Homo sapiens: one gene and its partner. The protein of the gene in region 2 purifies or fractionates together with the protein of the main gene of each other region. This does not show direct contact. Each region holds a gene or a part of one and is shown on either strand. Other genes may lie near its edges.

Region 1 (2,969 bases), on a different chromosome or scaffold from region 2:
ATCCTTAAATTATTCTCATGTTTACAGTTGTGATTCTTTAATAAATACTATTATGCAGCTCTATTGTTTAAGCTTTCTGGATTTGGTTTAAACACATGCATATATATTGTCAATTGTGGGAAGCTTTACAAGTTATATTCCATGCACTTTTTGGACAGAGTTCTAACAGAGCCAGCCAGTCCACAAAACAGGCAGACAAAAGTTGAATTAACTGGGGCAAATAGGACTCTTATGCAACATCCAAAATATCTGACATTCTGCAGCAAACAGGGAGTACCTTCAGGATTGGCCTGTTATCTTCTTTAGAACTAAGTTCATCTTAAAAATTTAAGAAGGTGGACATTTCAACACCATCAAGTGCATTTAGGTGACATGTTTAAGTTAACTTGACTTCCTTGAATGACCTAGTTAGTAAACTAGTCACTAGTAATTCGGTCACCAAGCAAATCAAGCCTGCAAGAAAGGAAGCCAATATTCAAAATGCCATGTTACCATCTAAACCCATACAAATTAGTTTATTTCCAACAATAATAGGTAACTTTAATAATAAGACATCTAACTAAAGCAAGCTCCTCCAACAAGACCAAGACAGCATCTCTTCTTCTAAGGCTTAGGTTTTGCCCAGAATTCCCGATACATGGAATAGCCCATACCTAAAGAAAAAGAATGCTAGTTAAGCATTTCAGTATTTTCTTAAATATTCAAAAATAAAAACCAGTTCATAAAATAGCTGAAAGTAGCACCACTGCTAGCATGGAATATTTACAAGGGGAATAAGACCCTAGGAAGCTTATACTCTTGCCTTCTTAAACATCTTAAATCTCTAAAACTCTTGTTACATACAGTAGTTTCCCAAGTAGCAAAGGGCTGGTATGGCTACTTCACATGTTACAATATTTCTTTGAAAGAACAATCAATATTTATCTGGTAACTTTGAAAGGAATCACTCTTGCTACATAATACCAGATAAAGTCAATGAATTATAAAGCCAATAGAAGAAGCATGTAATACCTAAACTTTAAGAATCTCTCCTTTAAAAACACAATAAAATAGCAATTGTATGTCTCTCCCAGATAACAGATGTTACTATCAACCCCAATTACATGTCTAGGCTCTTCAATGAAATTATAAACTCAGTGATTGACAGGATTTTTTTTTTCTTTAAAATCTTAGTAGGATATATCATAGAAAAACTATGTCACTACTTGAATTATCTTCATTAATTCATTTTTTACATGAAAATGAGTATAAGTGATATTCTCCAACTGCTAAAAGGTCAGCTAAAAATATTTACCTATTTTGTTTGTAAAGAAATACCTTAATGAGAAACGAAAATTTGAAATTTCCTATAGGAACCTACCAACAGTCATTGCTCCTACAACAAAGCCTTGGGCTGCCACACGCATGTGGATCAGATGAATGGACATTTTAGTATTTCCCCTGCTCTTCAGTTTATATAATCCATATGCAACAATTGCTGCAAAACCCGCTATTCCTGTAAAACAAAGTAACAAGTATGTCAGATGCATGAGAAGGGACCAAGATGACTTTACCATCAGTCAATGTACATTCTATTATTTTTATGAGGATTCTTTATCAGATCATTAATTAGCTAACATACAAATTGAGTTTTTCATGTTTTCCCCTATCAAAACCAAAAATCTTTAAGCAAACAACAACAGATCCAGAAAGTCAGGATTATCTTTAAAAACATGGGTTTGTGGGGCCAGTAGATAAACTCCTTTAAAAAACTGCTAGGGAATTAACAGGAACCTAGATTATGATTATCAGAACGAAAGTGTGCCAAAGGTCTTGACTTAGAGAATGAATTTATTCCATTTCCTCTCTGTCCTATTTCCCTCCCTCAAGGTAATCAGTTAATATACCAGAGACAATCCTACACACTACTACCACTGAGAAACATTGCCTGAATATTTCAAACTTTGGGATATTGTACTGGGAAGAAGTAAATAAAGGAAAAGAATAGAGCAATATTAGTTTCAGTTAAAAGGATTATGATCCTAGAGTTCTATACAGAGCCAAACTCTCATTCATTTTGAGGGCAAAAGCATTCAGGACATGACCTTCCATGTTTTCTTTTTAAGATTTATTATTTTATTTTTTAAGAGATGGGGTCTTGCTCTGTTGCCCAGGCTGGAGTGCAGCCGCACAATCATAGCTCACTGCAGCCTTGTTCTCCCAGGCTCAGGTGATCCTCTTCGCTCAGCCTCCCTAATAACTGGGACTACAGGAGGGCTGTCTTTCCCAAGCTGCCACCCAGGTACTGATACAAAAACCTAGAGGAAAATATCCAGTCAAATAAAAACAGTGAGTCAAAATGGACAGTTCAAGAAATAAAGACATAATGGTTAAGATATAATGGTGAGCAATAAAGACAGAAAAATCTGTACTGGTTCCTTGAAAATGACTGGTATAATATAGCAAAATTAAGAATCTGAAATTAGGCTATGATTATCACAACAAAACGTGTGCTAAAGGTCTTAGGGAATAAATTTATATTCATTTTAATACAGGAAATAGATGAAAAAAACACATCCTAGTTTGACAATGTAAAGATAACCACCAGCAAGCAGTGTAAGAATAGCCGCAGAACTTCCAAATCATAAGGAGGAAAAAAAAATTAGGGCTGGGAGCAGTAGCTCACACCCATCATCCCAGCACTTTGGGAGGTTGAGGCAGGTGGATCACCTGAGATCAGGGGTTTGAGACCAGCCTGGCCAACAGCCTGGTCATCTCTACTAAAAATACAAAAAATTAGCCGGGCATGGTGGCATGCGCCTGTAATCCCAGCTACTTGGGAGGCTGAGGCAGGAGAATGCTTGAACCTGGGAGGCGGAGGTTGCAGTGAGCCGAGATCACACCACTGCACTCCAGCCTGGGCGACAGAGCGAGACTCCATCTCAAAAATATATATATATATATATATATATATAAATTTTTAAAGTCAT
Region 2 (3,928 bases):
AATTATGGCTCACTGCAGCCTCAAACTCCTGGACCCAAGCAATCCCCTGCCTCAGCCTCCCAAATTGCTGGGCCTACATGTACACACCACCATACCCAGCTGTATTTTTAGTAGAGAGGAAGTCTCATGTTGCCCAGGTTGGTCTCAGACTCCTGGCCTCAAGCAATCCCTCCCACCTTGCTGGGATTACAGGTGTGAGCCACTGCTCCCAGTCAGGAGCCTATTATCTCATCTCATGACCTCTACTACCTGCAACCTCTAACTAGACAACCTGAAAGCATATTTTTCTAAGGTGAGGCTGGGTAGGAATCTATGAATTCATCAGTAAAAATTTACCCTTGATACTAGGAAAACAATCGGAGGCATCAACCTTTCTGACGACAAGTTTCTCTTTCTCCTGAGGATGTTGACGGATATAGCAGCAACAAACATTAAATGAGCAGTTATGATATGCCAGGCAGTTCCATGCACTTTACATGTATTAAGGTATTCTTTAACCCTTAATTAGACATTGCAAGGCTCACCAATTTACCCACAGTCCACCCAGATAATAAGGGTCAGAGGCAGAATATGAAACCAGAGAATGTGATTCTCAAAGTCCTTGAGCTCTTAATCACTATACTATTTTTTCATGTAAATTATCACAATTTATAGTATGATAGAATGTCACATTCTGGCGCTCAAACTGGCCATAGTCTTTTTCTTTTTTTGAGACAGGCTGGAGTACAGTGGCATATGCGATCACAGCTCACTGCAGCCTCAACCTCCCCAGACCTACGTGATCCTCCTACCTCAGCCTCTTGAGTAGCTAGGACTACAGGCGTGGGCCACCACACCCGGCTAATTTTTGTAAAAATGAGGTTTCACCACATTGCCCAGGCTGGTCTTGAACTCCTGGGCTCAGGCAATCCACCCACTTCAGCCTCCCAAGGTCCTGGGATTACAGGCATGATCCACCATGCCCGGCCTCAAAGTCTTATATACATTTTAGGTCATCACTTACTTCTAGCTTGCGAACAGGTACTTCCAGAGGGCAGGCCTATGGTCCAAACCCCAGGAGCCAATCTTTCACTTGGGACTTGTATCTAGAGCACATTGCTGAGAACTCTCAGACTGGAGAGTGGCCCAAGGTAACATTTCTGCAAACTGCAAAGTAGTTGACATTATTTAGTCCTGTTTCCTACCCCTTTTCAGAGCTTAAATCACATAAATATTCCCTTCACATCTGTGGTGGGTTGAATAGTGTCCCCCCCAAACCTCATGTCCACCAAGAACCTCATAATGTGACTTTATCTGGAAATAAGGTCTTTGCAGGTGTAATTAGTTAAGGATCTCAAGAGGAAATCATCCTAGATTTAGGGCAGGCCCTAAATCCAATGACTCATGCCCTTATAAGAAGAGGACAAGATACACAGAGACACACAGAGAGAAAGAAGAGCATGTGAAGACAGGGAGAAACTGGAGTTATGCTGCCAGAAGCCAAGAAATGCCAGGAACTACCAGAAGCTGGAAGAGGCAAAGAAAGATTCTCCCCTAGAATCTGCCCTGTGGACACTTCCTTTTGGGCTTCTACCCTCCTCAACTGTGAGAAAAAACTTCCTACTATTTTAGAGCCACCTAGTTTGTAGCAATTTGTCATGAAAGTCCTAGAAAATGAATGCAACACCTAAACTACAATATTACATTCTAAAAAAAAAAAAGAAAAAAAAGGAAAACAGCAGCAGGCACCGTACAAAAATATACCAAAAAGATCTAATAAAATGTCCTAGCAGATAGAATCAATAAAATGTCGAGAAAGCAGTTCAATAAAAGGATTGACACAAGAGAATACAATGTGTGGACTTTCAAAATAACCAAGTATTTCCAAAAGCATACTGTTATAAATCTAAACAGCAAAATTTATACACACACACACACACACAGAGAGAGAGAGAGAGAGAGAGAAAGAGAGAGAGAGAGAGTTTTTTGAGTTTGTTTTTTTTGTTTGTTTTTTTTTTGAGACAGAGTCTTACTCTGTCACCCAGGCTAGAGTGCAGTGGCATGATCTCAGCTCACTGCAACCTCTGTCTCCTGGGCTCAAGCGATTCTCGTGCCTCAGCCTCCTGAGTAGTAGAGATCATAGGCACGTGCCACCATGCACGGCTAATTTTTTTGTATTTTTTGGTAGAGATGGAGTTTCACCACGTTGGCCAGGCTGGTATCGAACTCCTGACCTCAGGTGATCTGCACACCTCGGCATTACAGGCATGAGCCACCACTCCCAGCCCCAAACAGCAAAATTATTTTAAATACAAGTGACAGTTGCCTAGCATGGTGTTATTGACAAGGAATAGGAAATTACATTGAATTTTACATCATATACCTCACCATGAGATAACAGTGATTACAAACAAAGCCATATATATATATATATATATATGTATTTTTTTTTTTTTTTTTTTTGAGTTGAGGTCTCACCCTGTTGCCCAGGCTGGAGTACAGTGGCCCAATCATGCAGCCTCAAACTCCTGGGCTCAAGCAAACCTCCCACCTCAGCCTCCTAAATCACTGGGATTACAGGCATGAGTCACTACTCCCGGCTCAGAAACAATGCAATTAAACACCAATTATCAATAAAGTTGGGTGACATTCAAGAAAGTGCATCTTCATACACCAGCTATCAACCTAAGTTCTACAGGGACTCAAGGTACTTTTGCATTCCATTCAATTTCATTTACATATACAAAAATACACATACATAGTAGCAGCACACACACCCCTTTTTCCCCCCATGGGCTGAAAAATTTAATATTGTTGAAATATCCATACAATCCAAAGTGGTCTACAGATTCAATGCACTCCCCATCAAAATTACAATGACATTCTTCAAAGAAACTGAAAAAGCAACCGTAAATTTTGTACAAAAGCATAAAAACCCTGATTAACACAAACAATCCTGAAGAAAATGAACAGAGCTGGAGGCATCACACTAGCCAACTTACAAATATACTACAGAGCTATATTAACCAAAACAGCATCTACAATCAACTGATTTTTGACAAATGAAACGTACCTTTCTTAATAGCACAGAATCTTTACACTTTAACTATCTACTAAAATTAGTAGTAAGGGGCTTTTAAAAAGGGGTAGAGCACCAATATCAATACTATAGATAATAATAGCAGACAGCATTTGCTGAGCTCTTACAATATGCCAGGCACTATTTCAAAGACTTTAACTATATCAACTCATTTAATCCTTACAACAACCCTAAAGGAGGCAAATACTTTCATTATATCCATTTTACTGATGAGAAAACTGAAACACAGAACTTTTTGAGGTGATGAAAATGTTCTATGTCATAACTGTGGCAGTGATAGTTACATATGAATATATTTATTAAAACGTATTGAGCTGGACATGCTGTTGTATATAAACCATACTTCAACAAAGCTGAAGAAAATGAAAAAAGAGGCCAGGCATGATGGTTCACACCCGTAATCCCAGCTCTTTGGGAGGCCGAGGTGGGCAGATCACTCGAGCTCCAGAGTTCGAGACCAGCCTGGGCAACATGGCAAAACCCCGTTTCTACAAAAAAGTACAAAAATTAGCTGGGCATGATGTCATGCGCCTGCAGTCCCAGCTACTCGGGAGGCTGAGGTGGAAGGATCACTGGAGCCCAGGGAGGTAGAGGCTTCCAGTGAGCTGTGATCATGCCACTGAACTCCAGCGTGGGCACCAGAGAGGGACCGTGTCTCAAAAAAAAAAAAAAAAAAAAAAAAAAATTGGTCAGGCACTGTGGCTCACACCTGTAATCCCAGCACTTTGGGAGGTCGAGACGGGTGGATCACCCAAGATCAGGAGTTCAAGACCAGCCTGGCCAACATGGTAAAACCCTATCTCTACTAAAAGTAAAAAATTAGCTGAGCATGGTGGCACACGCCTTTAA

Evidence for each region. Proteins that work in one complex are often made in the same cells at the same time.
Region 1: the proteins of FAM13B (region 2) and HIGD1A purify together in Homo sapiens (affinity purification with mass spectrometry; one large-scale study listed by BioGRID and IntAct). This does not show direct contact.

What each region holds. Positions count from the first base shown.
Region 1 is NC_000003.12:42,784,668-42,787,636, forward strand, and holds part of HIGD1A (HIG1 domain family member 1A, mitochondrial), read right to left. Parts: intron 1,496-2,969; coding exon 1,361-1,495; intron 654-1,360; coding exon 604-653; 3' UTR 1-603. UniProt on the Homo sapiens protein: Proposed subunit of cytochrome c oxidase (COX, complex IV), which is the terminal component of the mitochondrial respiratory chain that catalyzes the reduction of oxygen to water. May play a role in the assembly of respiratory supercomplexes.
Region 2 is NC_000005.10:138,022,892-138,026,819, forward strand, and holds part of FAM13B (protein FAM13B), read right to left. Parts: intron 1-3,928.